4 linked regions of the Homo sapiens genome follow. The protein of the gene in region 1 purifies or fractionates together with the protein of each later gene. This does not show direct contact. Each region holds a gene or a part of one and is shown in the gene's direction. Other genes may lie near its edges.

The links. Proteins that work in one complex are often made in the same cells at the same time.
Region 2: the proteins of SMIM5 (region 1) and SIDT2 purify together in Homo sapiens (affinity purification with mass spectrometry; one large-scale study listed by BioGRID and IntAct). This does not show direct contact.
Region 3: the proteins of SMIM5 (region 1) and FRMD5 purify together in Homo sapiens (affinity purification with mass spectrometry; one large-scale study listed by BioGRID and IntAct). This does not show direct contact.
Region 4: the proteins of SMIM5 (region 1) and TPST2 purify together in Homo sapiens (affinity purification with mass spectrometry; one large-scale study listed by BioGRID and IntAct). This does not show direct contact.

The regions. Positions count from the first base shown.
Region 1 is NC_000017.11:75,639,169-75,641,904, forward strand, and holds the end of SMIM5 (small integral membrane protein 5), read left to right. Parts: exon of another isoform or gene 1-997; coding exon of another isoform or gene 998-1,033; coding exon 1,034-1,160; intron 1,161-1,622; coding exon 1,623-1,729; 3' UTR 1,730-2,236; downstream 2,237-2,736.
Region 2 is NC_000011.10:117,188,743-117,192,242, forward strand, and holds part of SIDT2 (SID1 transmembrane family member 2 precursor), read left to right. Parts: coding exon 1-84; intron 85-426; coding exon 427-500; intron 501-592; coding exon 593-659; intron 660-1,209; coding exon 1,210-1,283; intron 1,284-1,423; coding exon 1,424-1,547; intron 1,548-1,880; coding exon 1,881-1,998; intron 1,999-3,135; coding exon 3,136-3,272; intron 3,273-3,500.
Region 3 is NC_000015.10:43,884,272-43,887,771, reverse strand, and holds part of FRMD5 (FERM domain-containing protein 5), read left to right. Parts: intron 1-2,016; coding exon 2,017-2,091; exon of another isoform or gene 2,092-2,104; intron 2,105-2,976; coding exon 2,977-3,045; intron 3,046-3,500. UniProt on the Homo sapiens protein: May be involved in regulation of cell migration. May regulate cell-matrix interactions via its interaction with ITGB5 and modifying ITGB5 cytoplasmic tail interactions such as with FERMT2 and TLN1.
Region 4 is NC_000022.11:26,587,333-26,591,549, reverse strand, and holds the start of TPST2 (protein-tyrosine sulfotransferase 2), read left to right. Parts: upstream 1-1,417; 5' UTR 1,418-1,497; intron 1,498-4,217. UniProt on the Homo sapiens protein: Catalyzes the O-sulfation of tyrosine residues within acidic motifs of polypeptides, using 3'-phosphoadenylyl sulfate (PAPS) as cosubstrate.

The DNA.
Region 1 (2,736 bases):
CGTAGCCATCTCAGCGAGAACCGGCTGAGACCTGGGACAAGGCAACGATAATTACAGCCAAAGGTCTGGCACCAGCCCCTGGCCACCTGTCCCCACCACCACCCCTGGATTAGAGCAACTGCCTTGGTGAACTGGATCAGGCTGGGTTGGGACAAGGTTGTCTCTGGCTCCTCTCTAAAGAGGCACCAGCTCCCTCATGCCCACAGGAGAGGCAGAAGGGGAAAGCCTTCTGGAGTGGCACCTTGGGCCTCTTGGGCACCCTGAGACAGGAAGAGGCTCTCCTGGGGCAGGGGTGGGAGTGGAGAGGACTTTCCTGGTCAGGCTAGAGAAACAGATGACGCCAGCAGGGGAGGGGCTGGCTTGAGCAACCTGGGCCTCCTGACCCCCTCCCAACAGACAGGACAGAAACCCTGGCAAAACCTGGAGGGACACGGTGCGGCCTCCCCCTCTGGCAGAACAGGCATGAGTGTAGAAACTGGGCTGGTGGGAGAGGTTGGGGGGCCTGGGGGACAGGGGGGCAGTTTTCACCTCTGACTGACCCTGGCCAGAAGCCCCATGAACCTGCTCTCGGGAGAACCTGCTCCTTCTGTCCCCACATTGATGGAAGGCAAGAGTACCAGCTTGGCATCCTATCCCAGTCTCCCCACCCCGAGGGAGCTGTGCCAGTCCCAAGCACCCAGGCAAAACCCAGTAGTGGTACCTCAAGACAAGGGAATGGAACAGCGAAGCCAGAAACCACCACCAGCCGCCGCCTTGGCCGGCAGCCCCCGAAGCAAGCCCTTGGTCTCACTGTCCTCACCGGCTTCCTCCACCCTGAGCTGTGTCAGCTGGGTGGGGACTGAGGGCCACCACTAGGTGGAAGTCACCAGGGGTGCAATGTGTGAGACCTGACAAACTTGTTCTGCGGGCTGCGGATGGGTGCGAGGGTGGAATCTCGGTGCTGCGACGAGTGTGGGGCCAGCCGTGGAGGCTCCAGGTGTTCTCTCTGCCCCAGCAGAGCCCGGCAGGAGCCCCAACAGGAAGCCAGCGCGGCATGGCTGCCACCGACTTCGTGCAGGAGATGCGCGCCGTGGGCGAGAGGCTGCTGCTCAAGCTGCAGAGACTGCCCCAGGCTGAGCCCGTGGAGATCGTGGCCTTCTCAGTCATCATCCTTTTCACAGGTTAGTTGGGGCACTCAGCACCCCATGGCTCTCCCTGGCATCTGGGAGAGACCACACCATGGTGCCAGCCAGAGGGCTGGCAGAGGTGGCGGGTGTCTGCCGGATCAAGGAGGAAAACCAGTTGTCCCTTGGGGGAAGCCAAGGGACTTCCCTCATCCTCTGATATGCTGCTTGGGTGATGGGCGGTGCTGGGGACTGGGCCCAGCAGTACCCCGGGATCCCAAACGCGGGGATGACGGGAGCCAGGCTTGGGCAGTGAAAGAGAAGACACAACATGGAGGAGGTTGGCCCTGGCGGCTGGCATGGGGACCGTCCGCACCTCTCACCAGCCTCTCGGATCTTTCTGACCTCCACCAAACCTGTGGGGGAAAGACCCTGGCAGGCAGTGGGTTTCTCTGGGAGGAGGGTGGGCATCCTTTCTCTCCCCCAACCTGAGTCCCGTGCTCTCTCCCGGCCCTCCAGCTACTGTTCTGCTGTTGCTGCTGATAGCCTGCAGCTGCTGCTGCACTCACTGCTGCTGCCCTGAGCGGAGAGGCAGGAAGGTCCAGGTGCAGCCGACACCACCATGACGGACGGGCGATGGCTGAGGAGAAGCTGGAGAGGAGATGGCCAATGCCATGACACAGGCCATCAGCCTGGCCCTGCAGCCCTTACCCCTCAAGACCAGGCTCCCCTGGCCCCAGCTCTGGCCCAGCCCAGGTACCTGGACACTGACAACTTGAGCCCTACCAAGGAAACAAGGGCTGGTATAGGTGCAAACCTCTCATCTGCCAGTGGACACTGGGTGCTGGGGAGTCAGCTGTTTCAAAGACTGGGTCAACTGCCTGGGCTTCTTCGCCTACCTGCACTTTTTAACAAAACAAGGAAGTAGGGGTCCCCATACCTTGATGGAGAACAGTCCCCACCTGTGGGCAATTGGCCCTTGGGGCTCTGCTGATACATGCCAAAGAGGAGCAAGGCAATCAGAGGGGCTTTGTGCAATAGCTTCTGCATCCGAGCTCCCGCCAGAGCGTGAGCATGTCAGTATTCTAGTCCAGTATTTGCCAGTTTCCAAGTAAAAGCTTTTGTGTTACGTGTTTCTGCGGTGCCGGACTCCCTGAGGTTGGGCTGGGCTCTGTACATTGGGAGGGGGTATGGCTGGTGCCCGTCCTTCCCAGGCCTCTGCTCTCCCTGTGCCCACGAAAGCTGGAAAACCACGCAGAGAAGCATGCCACACAGGCGGTTAACACCACGGGACCAGTGGACGGTGCCATGAAATTCCTGTCATGCATTAGCTGCTAATGAGCTCTGCCAGGCTGAGGCACTACTCTGCAGAGTGGCAGAGACTGTGTTTGCCCAAAGGCAGGAGCTAAGCTCAGGAACAGCACTTTACTCTGTCAACTGCCTGCACCTTTGGCCTGCACATCCCACACTAGCAGACTCAGACCAGTGGGTCTTCACAAACTGCCAGAGGAAGGCCCTAATGTCACCTGTAACCTGCCTCCTGACCCTGTGGCCCTCCCCCATTTGTGTGCTGTCTGGGCTCACACCCTCACCCTGTCAGCTGCGTGACTCAACTTCCCTAAGCCGAACTCCC
Region 2 (3,500 bases), on another chromosome or scaffold:
GTGGACTCCATGAGCTCTGTGGAGGAGGATGACTACGACACATTGACCGACATCGATTCCGACAAGAATGTCATTCGCACCAAGGTCTGACCCGTGGGCCTGGCCTGGTCAGGCGTTTCCTGAGAAAGGGACATTCTGCGTTCCCGCCCCAGCATGTTCCCACTGACGTGGCATTTAGGGAAGCAGAAGGAAGGGGCTCAGCTGGGGCAGGGCAGATGCCGGGGAAACTAACCTGACCTCCAACCCCTTCCGGCCTGATTGGCCAAACCCTCTTGGTCTAAGCGGCCGCAGCAGTGGGATGTCCTTGAACCCTGCCCCCCTGAATTCGGCCCTGTGTGAGGGAGGCCCCTCTTGTCCACCTCTAACCTGGGGGAGGGGGCTTCTCCCAAGTAGCAGTAAGTGGGGCTGATTCCAGCTTCTCCCCAGCAATACCTCTATGTGGCTGACCTGGCACGGAAGGACAAGCGTGTTCTGCGGAAAAAGTACCAGATCTACTTCTGGTGAGTGGGCTGAGTGTCTGGGGCTCTGCTGTTGGTGGGTGTGTGGCAGCCTTGGGTGCCACCCACCTCACTGCCGCCCTCCTGCTCCGCAGGAACATTGCCACCATTGCTGTCTTCTATGCCCTTCCTGTGGTGCAGCTGGTGATCACCTACCAGACGGTGAGAGGGCAGGGCAGGTTCACCTTTCCGACAGCCTAGGACACCGCCCCAAAGTGCAGAGCCTCCCAGCCTGGGGCCCTGGTGTTCCATCACAGGACCTGGGTTCAGATCCCAGCTCTGCCTTCCCAGCCGAGTGACCCAGGGCAAATCACATAACCCCCCCAACCCTGAGTGTCAGTTTCTTCATCTGCAAAATGGGAGCAGCCCGCACTAAAGATAGCCCCTCCCTGGTTTCTTGTGCGGATTATGAAACCAAAGTCCTGGGGCTTTGTAAGCATCAGTTTCCCTTCCCTTTTCTCTGTCCCGTGGGGCAAGAACTTCCATCACGGTCATGCCTCAGGGTTTTCAGCCACGCCTAATGAGAGGGGACAGCGACTGTGCTGCATGGCATCCATGTTCTCAGAAGGAACACGTGCCTGCGGTGCTGTGTATTCCCACCTGCTAGCTGTGGTGGCACTTGCTGTTTTTTGCCAAAGGGGCCCGGATGGCGGGGCGTGGGCTGAGTTGGGCGTGACGACAGACCCACTCCCTGTCCCTGCTCCTGCTACAGGTGGTGAATGTCACAGGGAATCAGGACATCTGCTACTACAACTTCCTCTGCGCCCACCCACTGGGCAATCTCAGGTGGGGGTCATGCTGGGAGGCCCCTTGTCCAGGCCAAGGGTGAAATGGGGCAGGGCCTGGGGCTTTGCAATGCCCACGTGGGCTAGGGAAGAGGCCTGGGTGTGAGTCCCAAGCAGTCTGCCTTGTGTTGCCCCTTCTAGCGCCTTCAACAACATCCTCAGCAACCTGGGGTACATCCTGCTGGGGCTGCTTTTCCTGCTCATCATCCTGCAACGGGAGATCAACCACAACCGGGCCCTGCTGCGCAATGACCTCTGTGCCCTGGTAAGGGAGCACCTGCCTGCCTGCCGCAGCCTCAGCTCCAGCACAGACCTCAAGCCTTGGCTCCAGGACACCCTTTTGGGCAGGCCTGGCCCTGCCTTCCCCAGCTCTCCCCTCCCCAGTTCTGTCTGGCCCACCCTATCCAGCCCAGCCTGCCCCACCCTGCCCTGCCCTCCCTTGCCAGCCTGCCCAGGCCAGCCCACCCCTGCACACCCACACTCGACACATACCCCACCCCTTTTCCTCTTCCACTCCTCTTAGGGTCCCTCTTTTGGGTCCCTTCTTCCCTTCCTGCCTCACTTCCTCCCTCCCTTCCCTTCTCTCTCTCCCCAACAGGAATGTGGGATCCCCAAACACTTTGGGCTTTTCTACGCCATGGGCACAGCCCTGATGATGGAGGGGCTGCTCAGTGCTTGCTATCATGTGTGCCCCAACTATACCAATTTCCAGTTTGGTGAGTGGGGCGTCCTTCTTTTCTGGCTCAACCTACAGCAGGGACCTGCCTGAGTCCTTCACTATCCCCAAGTCACCCACAGGGATCGCTAAGACACCCCTGTAGGAAACTCCAAGGCTGGCGTGCCTGGGTGTGCACACATCCTAGCCTATGGAACATGGGCACCTAGATGCTGCTTCATTCATCTGTCAAGCTATTCCTATGTAAAGGCATGTGCCGCAGTGAAGAAAACAGTATAATTAAGAAGGGGTCCCTGGCCGGGTGCAGTGGCTCACGCCTGTAATCCCAGCACTTTGGGAGGCCGAGGCAGATGGATCACGAGGTCAGGAGCTCCAGACCATCCTGGCTAACATGGTGAAACCCCGTCTCTACTAAAAATACAAAAAATTAGCCGGGCACAGTGGCAGGCGCCTGTAGTCCCAGCTGCTCGGGAGGCTGAGGCAGGAGAATGGCATGAATCCGGGAGGCAGAGTTTGCAATGAGCCAAGATCACGCCCTGCGCTCTAGCCTGGGCAACAGAGCGAGACTCCGTCTCAAAAAAAAAAAAAAGAAGGGGGCCCTGGCTGGGCACTGTGGCTCATGCCTGTAATCCTAGCACTTTGGGAGGCTGAGGCGGGGGGATCGCCCAAGGTGGGGAGTTTGAGATCAGCCGGGCCAACATGGTGAAACCCCATCTCTACTAAAAATGCAAAGATTAGCTGGGTGTGGTGGTGCATGCCTGTAATCTCAGCTACTCAGGGGGCTGAGGCAGGAGAATTGCTTGAGCCCAGGAAGCGGAGGTTGCAGTGAGCCGAGATCCCACCATTGCACGCCAGCCTGGGCGACAGAGTGAGACTCCGTCTCCAAAAAAATAAAAGGGAGTCCCTGATCTCAGGGTGCTCACAGACTAAGACACAGACCAAGTTGTCCCTGTTTTCAGGAGATGTCAGACTCTGGGTGACAGCCAGTGGGGTGGCAGTGTGGTGTGGCAGGTACAACTAAGGAACTGAAGTTCAAGTGCCACCCTGCCACCAGCTCACACCATGGCCGTGGTGGGGCACCAGGGCTCTCTCTTCCTCTGGGATTGTTGGGGCCAGGAGTTCTCTGCTGGGGCTTGGTGGCCATTTCTGCAGCTCCCTTCCGTGTCCCTCATCCTAGACACATCGTTCATGTACATGATCGCCGGACTCTGCATGCTGAAGCTCTACCAGAAGCGGCACCCGGACATCAACGCCAGCGCCTACAGTGCCTACGCCTGCCTGGCCATTGTCATCTTCTTCTCTGTGCTGGGCGTGGTGAGGGCCTGACCTGCTCTGCTCAGCCTGTATGATAGGAAAGGTGCACGTGCGTTCAGACACGTAGTGCACACCCTCCGCCACCTCCTGCATGAGAGATTCCTGCTCCTTCCCTGAGATGCCTTCCTGGGCCCCTCTCAGAGTCCCAGCCTGGCTGAGCAGCCAGCCCCAGGAAGGGTGGGCCATCCGAGCCACTTCCCTCTCCACCCTCACCGCTGCCCTTGGTGG
Region 3 (3,500 bases), on another chromosome or scaffold:
GGTGAGCCCTGCTCTCACCAAATGCCCCTGATTGGCCAGGTCCCAGTTCCAGTAACCTGAAGGATCCTGGAGAGATGAGAACTGCTCTGGGATGAGTGGCACCATACTTCTCTCCAGGGAAGATTCTGCTGCCTGCTGGCTGCTATGGGATGCTGGCTGGCAGAACTGGGTCCTCCCAGTTGCCAGGGCCACAGCCCCAGAAGCTGTTTCTTAGACAGGCATTCTGAATTACTTAATTCCCATTATGTGTTTATACCAGAACCAAGGATTCACTGAATCGGCAGCCTTTCTTCTCCTGAATATACTCGGGAGACTTTGGCATGGTCACACTTCCCTCCTGTTCAGTCCCTACTGTCCATAGAAAGTCAAGAAAACATTTATTTTCTTTTGCTACCACCCTCCCTTTGCCTGTGAGGATGTAATCCAGGTTTGGCCAGTTACCTGAACCTAGAGAGAAGCAACTTGAGATGCAAGCTCCTGCCTGTGGGACTGAGGAGCAGCCCAAGAACTGGGGTCCCACGGGTCTCCGCAGCAGAGAGAGGAAGGCACTAGCCGACAGGGGCCTGCTCCACACTGAACTATCCCTGCCCTGGGAATGGCATATGTGGAAGCTTTCCCTTTCTCTCTACCAAAGGGTAGAGAAGAAGCAAACAGAAGCAATCTCCTTGCCTCTTGTCTTTTCATGCCTTCAGCAGCATTTCTTAAGGGCTTGGTTTTCCCATCTGTGTCACGGAAACAGAAGTGTTGCTTCTGAACCTGTGACCTCACTCAGTTTCTGAGTCTTCCCACGAGTAGATCTCCCTACCCACCCAGCCCTGCCTGCACCCACACTGGAAATGGAGGTCATTTTTCAGTTTTCCATTGCCTCCTTAATGTTCTCATCAAACGGTAAAAGCCTGGGTGAGATCCCCAGGTATGTCAAGTCTCTGGCAGCAGCGCTTTGGCCTTGCCCTCAGTGTCTCTCACATACAGATCCCTAGTCCTGCCTTTGGCCTAGTGCCATGGCAGGAGCCCAGTCAGATGCAAGAACATGCCCAGGCTCCAGTAAGCAGCTCGGATGTCCTGGAGCCCTGAGACGGGCAGGGATGGTGTCTCCCAAGAACTGTTCATGGATTGTGGAAACAGCTCCTACTCACTGCTCATAGCACAGGTTTCAGACTCACATAGGTTACTGGTTGGATCAGTACCATAGGCACCTGGGCATGTTACAGGTGGATCCCATCTTAGGAGGCTTCTCTCTGAGCTGCTGTGCCCAAGCTGAGAGAGCTAATGGGCTCAGTGAAGTCACCCAGGAGAAAGTATTACAGAGCTCCACATCGGCTGTCTGCAGCTTCAAACGAGATATAAAATAGATATCCTGGGGGAGGGAGAAAGGCTCCAAATTCAAATACATGACGGACTTTTATTAAAGTTAAGCTAGTTTCTTCATCGCAGGATTTCTGTCTTTACTGTGGTCATGTATTTTAGGACCCTCCAAAAGGGAGATGGAACAGGAAAGACAGCCCCCACCCTCTTCTCCACCCACAATTACCCAGACATAGACACAAAATCAAATACTGGGACTGGAAAGGAGACCCCTAAGGTCCAGTAGTCCCAGCTCTATCATTTTATAAAAAGGGTGAGGCTAAGAGAGAAGGAAATTTGCCCGAGGTCACACTGCTAATAAGTGACGTGGCTGAGATTAGATGGGCATTCTATTATTCCCCAAGACCATCCACCCGAGCATGTATTCTCTCAGTCCCCCTGGTAAAACCTATGAAGCATTTTGGGGGAGCCTTCACTCTCCTGACACTAAAATGGGTTTCCATGTTGACAGTCCTGGGCACTGAGGCAGGAGAGCAGCTGGCTGTGAGCACAGCCCCCAGATCCTAAATGAGAGTCAGAGACAAATGTGGACTATGAAGGGCTTTTTTCCTGAAGTTTCAAGTAGCCTTTGGAAGAAGCTGGGGATGTGCTGCCTTAACCTGTGTGAGGCAGTTCAGGCTGTCTATCACACTGGACTTTGCCTTGCTACAGGCTGGAGAAGTCAAGCCAAGTCCGCACAGTGTCCAGCAGCAATTTATTCTTTAAAGGGAGCCGGTTCCGATACAGGTAAATAGTGACAGTAAGTAACCATTATGGATCTATTTTCAGACCCTTCTCTGGAGAACTCAGTGGTCCTTATCCTTTAGAACAGAGAAACCAGGGAGGACTCAGAAAAGTCTGAGGTCTCCATCTAATTCTCCCATCTTATGACCCTTTTACTATTTCCTTCCTTCCCTACAGCAATTTGTCTGTAGGGTTTTAAATGTATATTGGCCGGCCATAGTGGCTCATGCCTATAATCCCAGCACTCTGGGAGGCTGAGGCAGGTGGATCACTTGAGGCCAGGAGTTTGAAATCAGCCTGGGCAACATGATGAAACCCCATCTCTACTAAAAATACAAAAAAAATTATCTGGGTGTGGTGGCACACACCTGTAGTCCCAGCTACTTGGGAGGCTGAGGTGGGAGAATTGCTTAAGCTCAGGAGGTCGAGGCTGCAGTGAGCCATGATTGCACCACTGCACTCCAGCCCAGGAGACAGAGCAAGACCCTGTCTCCAAGAAAATGAAAAATAAATATGTATCTTCTCTTTCCCTTACAATAGCAAAATAAGAACTATAACAGTGATTCATGTCTCACTGTCTAAAGGTTGTTCTTATGTGTTTTTTTGTGATGTAATTGGAACATGCTGGAAAATGAGGAATTACTCCTAAATGAGAATGGAAGATCCTAAAGACTCTAGAGATGGAGAGAGTTCTCTCAGATAGGCTGTCATGACAGTTTAGAAGTCTACCCCACCAAGCAAGCCTTTCTCCATGACCAAAACATCAGGGAAAGGGTGGGCCACAGATGCCATTTCCTGATTCAGGGAAAGCACCTAAGATCTTGGAGAGGAGCTGTCCTACAACACAGTCTCATTTCTTGCTGCTTGTTTTTATTACACTACTTACAGTGGCCGAGTTGCAAAGGAAGTCATGGAATCAAGTGCTAAGATCAAACGGGAGCCACCGGAAATACACAGGTAGGCTGCCAGGGGCTTCCCCCCAAACAGTTGTAGCTCAGATCCCAGAATCTCAATCCAGCAGTTTGAGTACTGTGAAGCCCCTGGCTCCAGTGGCTACCAAAAAGTCCAAAATGGAGCAGAAGGCTGAAGAAACTTCTCAGAGGGATGGGGAGAAGTCTTTGACCCTTAATAAGAGAGCTGGGGAGGGAGGAAGGGCTACTGCAGATAGTACATCAGATCCAGGTGCCACTTCACTTGGCAATTCTCTTCTGCCCTCCCTAGTCTTGACACTGATCATAGATGTGTCACACAATTTCAGTGGTTCTGGAACCAGTCGATCATATGAAGCCAAGGATAGTCCCACAGCCCTGCCACACTGGCTCTAAAATAATTTCAGGATCCATGCTTCATGTAGATCCACAAATTGTGTTTCCAGAAGCCTATCTCCTAGAATCTAAGACCCAGAAAGAATA
Region 4 (4,217 bases), on another chromosome or scaffold:
AGGCTGGTCTTGGATTCCTGACCTGGTGATCCACCCGCATCGGCCTCCCAAAGTGCTGGGATTGCATTTTTTTTTTTTTTTTTGAGACAGAGTCTCACTTGTTGCCCAGGCTGGAGTGCAGTGCAATCTCAGCTCACTGCAACCCTTGCCTCCCAGGTTCAAGCGATTCTCCTGTCTCAGCCTCCTGAGTAGCTGGGACTACAGGCATGTACCACCACACCCGGCTAATTTTTGTATTTTTAGTAGAGACAGGGTTTCGCCATGTTGGCCTGGCTGGTCTCGAACTCCTGACCTCATGTGATCCACCCACCTTGGCCTCCCAAAGTCATTTTCGTATTTTTATTAGAAACGAGGTTTCACCATTTTGGCCAGGCTGGTCTTGAACTCCTAGCCTCAAGTGATCCGCCCGCCTCGCCTCCCAAAGTGCTAGAATCACAGGTGTGAGCCATGCACCTGACCCAGAAATTTATTTTAAACAGATAATATATACATATGGCAAATAGAAAGTTAAAAGAGAACAAAGAACCAAAGTTCACAATGAAAAGTAAGCCTGCATGCCTACCCTACCTTTTCTTCAGGTATTCAATGCACAAGCATACGATGCATAGATAGCTCTATTATTTTTCCAATTTTACACATGAAGAAGCAGAAGCACTGAAAGGTTATAGAACTTAGACTGTGCTAAGATTTATCAGTCAGGAGTTTTGTTTCATTTGTGTATATCAGGGCTTCACAACCTTTACGCTATTCGGCATTTTTTGCAGGGTTTTTTTTGGGGGGGTAGTGGCAGGGCTGGGGGTGGAAAGGGTGTCCTATGCACCGCAGAATGTTTAGCAGCATTCCAGGCCTCTACTCACTAGATGCCAGTATCGCCTCTCCACTTCCCCAGTTATGACAACCAAAAATGTCTTCAGAGATTGCCAAATGTCGTGGTGGTGGAGGGATGTCAGGGCAAAATCCCTGATAAATGGAGAGAATGTGGTATATCCACAAAAACTCCCTCCAAAACCACTGGTGTGTATGACTATACATCAGACCACCCCTTTCTTTTTTCTGTGTTTTACACAAACAGTAGCACGAATACACCCCGCTGCGGGTCTACTTTTCTTTTCTTACACCACTTTTTGGTGATCATTCCACTTCATTGCTTACAGGCAGAAAGGAACTTCTCTTAAACAGAACTGACCGGGAGAAGTGGTGAGCTGCCCGTCCTAGGGGTAAGCCAGCGAGCAGACAGGGGCTTCCAGGGCGGCGGGGCGGGGTTCCCGGGGCGAGCCTCCGGGAAACTTCCCGACCAGCCTCTGCTCACCTCGCGGTCCCGAGGCGCAGTGGAGGGGATGGGGCGGGGCGGGGCGGGGCCGCGTATCGGGCCCGCCCCCGTACGTCACGTCGCCGCGGCCCCGCCCCCGCGCGGGCACCTCCCCCTTCCCCGGCTGGGGCGGCTGGAGAGCCGGGAGTCGCTGGGTGCGTGGGGCTGCCTCGCCGCGTCTCGCCACGGTAGGTGGCCCTGGGGCGGCAGGGGGTGGCCTCGGGTTGCAACCGGGGGCGCGGGCTGGGGGCCGTGCGGGTCGGCCTCGGGCGCCTGGCAGCCCTCCGTCCTGGCGGCTGCCTCCGGGCCCGGCGCGACTGCTCGGGCTCCGGGGCTGGGAGCTGGGATCTGGGAGGCAGGCAGGCGGCGCGGGCGCGCGGTTCTGGGATCCGCACCCGCTCGGCGTCCCGAGCGCTTTCCGCGGGGTGCGGCATCCACCGGGCCCCCGTTACCACGCTTCCCGCTTCGGACCCAGCGCCTGGGAGACGCTCAGCGTCTGTTGGCGGGGGGACTGGGGGGGAGGGCGGCGCGTCCCCGCCTCCGGAGTCCCCAACCTCGCCCAGGCGCGCGGGGACCCCCAGGCGGGCGCCAGGGCGCGTGGAAGTTAACTTGCAGCAGCCGTGGAGTTGCGAGGAGCGTCAGAAGTGGAGGCGTTGGGGGCGGAAATCGTCGGCTGGGGAGGTGGGCGCTGGGAGCACTGGGTTGGGGAGCCCTAGTGAACTTGGAGGTCACTGGTGAGGAGTGGAGAGGAATTTGACCCGAGGATCCCACCCCAACCCCCAACCTCCCTCCGTAAACTCCGCTTCTCGGTGTGAGCTGGATGGGAGGTGCCCGGAAAGCCGGGACTGGGACTGGTAGCAGGGGACTGGGAGCATGGGCTCAGAGGCTGAGCACGCCTGACCTGGCAGAGTCGTTGTTAGATGGGACAGAGGTCGAGGTCTGGCATTCCCACTCAAAGGCCCGTTCCCTAGGGAAGGAACCATCCACCTCAGCAGAGTCATTAGAAAGAACCGTGCCTAACCTCTTGCCCCCTTCCCCTTTTACAGATGGGGAGACTGAGGCTTGGAGAGGTCACCTGCCCGTGACCCTAGGATTCACAGCTAGGATGTGGCAGAGCTGAAACTCACTCACAGGCCTCCTGACTTAATGTCCTTGGGGATGTTGAGGAGGCGGGCTGTTGAACTCCTACTTATCCTACAGAAGCCCCCTCAAGCAGCACCTCCTCCGGGAAGCCTTCCCTGGCATTCTCCTGGTATTGTTGGGTGCTTCCTGTTTTGAACCCCACAGAGTTAGCCAGCCCTTTTTCTCACTTCCCAACAGACATTCCCTTGCATGTCTGTCTGCCAGACTGGGCTGTGGGTGGACACCTCTCCCTAGCCTCCATGTGATAACCCTTTCATCTCAGCAGGGTGGTCTGCTGGCGAGGGTAGGCTTCTGGATTTGAACAGATCTGTGACACACCGGATTTAGTAGTGATGTGGCCCGGGCGACGCATTTTCCTTCCGATCTAGTCTCAGTTTCCATAACTGTAAAGCTGGGTTTATTTCATTGTCCTAAAGGAACTGTTGGGTCATTTCTGAATCCCCCCACCCCACTGAACCCCAATTGTACTGTTGTTTACTTAATATACATCTTTGTATCACCTGATTTTTAAAAATCTCATGCAAACTTTTTTTATAACAGCTTTGTTGAGATACAGTTCACATGCCGTACAATTCACCCTTTTAAAGTATATGTTTCCGTAATTTTTAGGATGTTCAGAGTTGCATAGTCATCACCACTGTCTAATTTTAGAACATTTTTATCATGCCCAAAAGAAAGGCTGTTTCATGGTCACTCCCCAATCCTTTCTTCCCCTATCCCTTGGCAACCACTTACTGACTCTCAAATTCTCTATGAATTTGCCTGTGCTGGACATTTCATATAAATGCAGTCATATACTATGTGGCCTTTGGTATCTGATGCTTTTCACTTCAGAGAATGTTTCTAAGGTTCAGCCCCTTGCAGCCTGTATCAGTACTTCATTCCTTTTTTTTTTTTTAAGTACTTCGTTCCTTTTTATGGCTGCATAATATTCTATTATGTGGATATACCACATTCTATCCATTTGTCAGCTGATGGATGTTTGGGTTGTTTCTAACTTTTGACTATTATGAATAATACTGCTATGAACATTCATGTACAGGTCTTTGGACATACATTTTCAGTTCTCTCAGGTATATTTCTAGGAGTGGAATGATTGGGTCGTAAGGTAACTTTAGGTTTCACCTTTAAATATTTTTTTAATTTATTTTATTATTTATTTATTTTGTAGAGATAGGGGTCCCACTATGTTGCCCAGGCTGGTCTTGAACTCCTGGTCTCAAGCGATCCTCCTACCTCAGGCTCCCAAAGTGCTGGGATTATAGGTGTGAGCCACTGCACCCAGGTTTAACCTGTTGAGGACCTGCCAGACTATTTTTCCAGAACAGCTGTACCATTTTATATTCCTACCACCAGTGTATGAGGGTTCCAATAATCTTAAATACATTTAGTGTTCTCTGAAGCAGTCATAACCCTTGAAATCACTGGCTTTGATGTGTTAGTTGTAAACTATTTTCAGGCCGGGCACGGAGGCTCACACCTGTAATCCCAGCACTTTGGGAGCTAAGGTGGGCAGGTCACCTGAGGTCAGGAGTTCGAGACCAGCCTATCCAATATGGTGAAACCCCGTCTCTACTAAAAATACAAAAATTAGCCAGGTGTGGTGGTGCGTGCCTGTAACCCCAGCTACTTGGGAGGCTGAGGCAGGGGAATCGCTTGAACCCAGGAGGCAGAGGTTGCAGTAAGCCAAGATCAATCACACCACTGCACTCCGGTCTAAGTGACAGAGCAAGACTCTGTGAAAATACCGAAGCAAGGAGAGGCA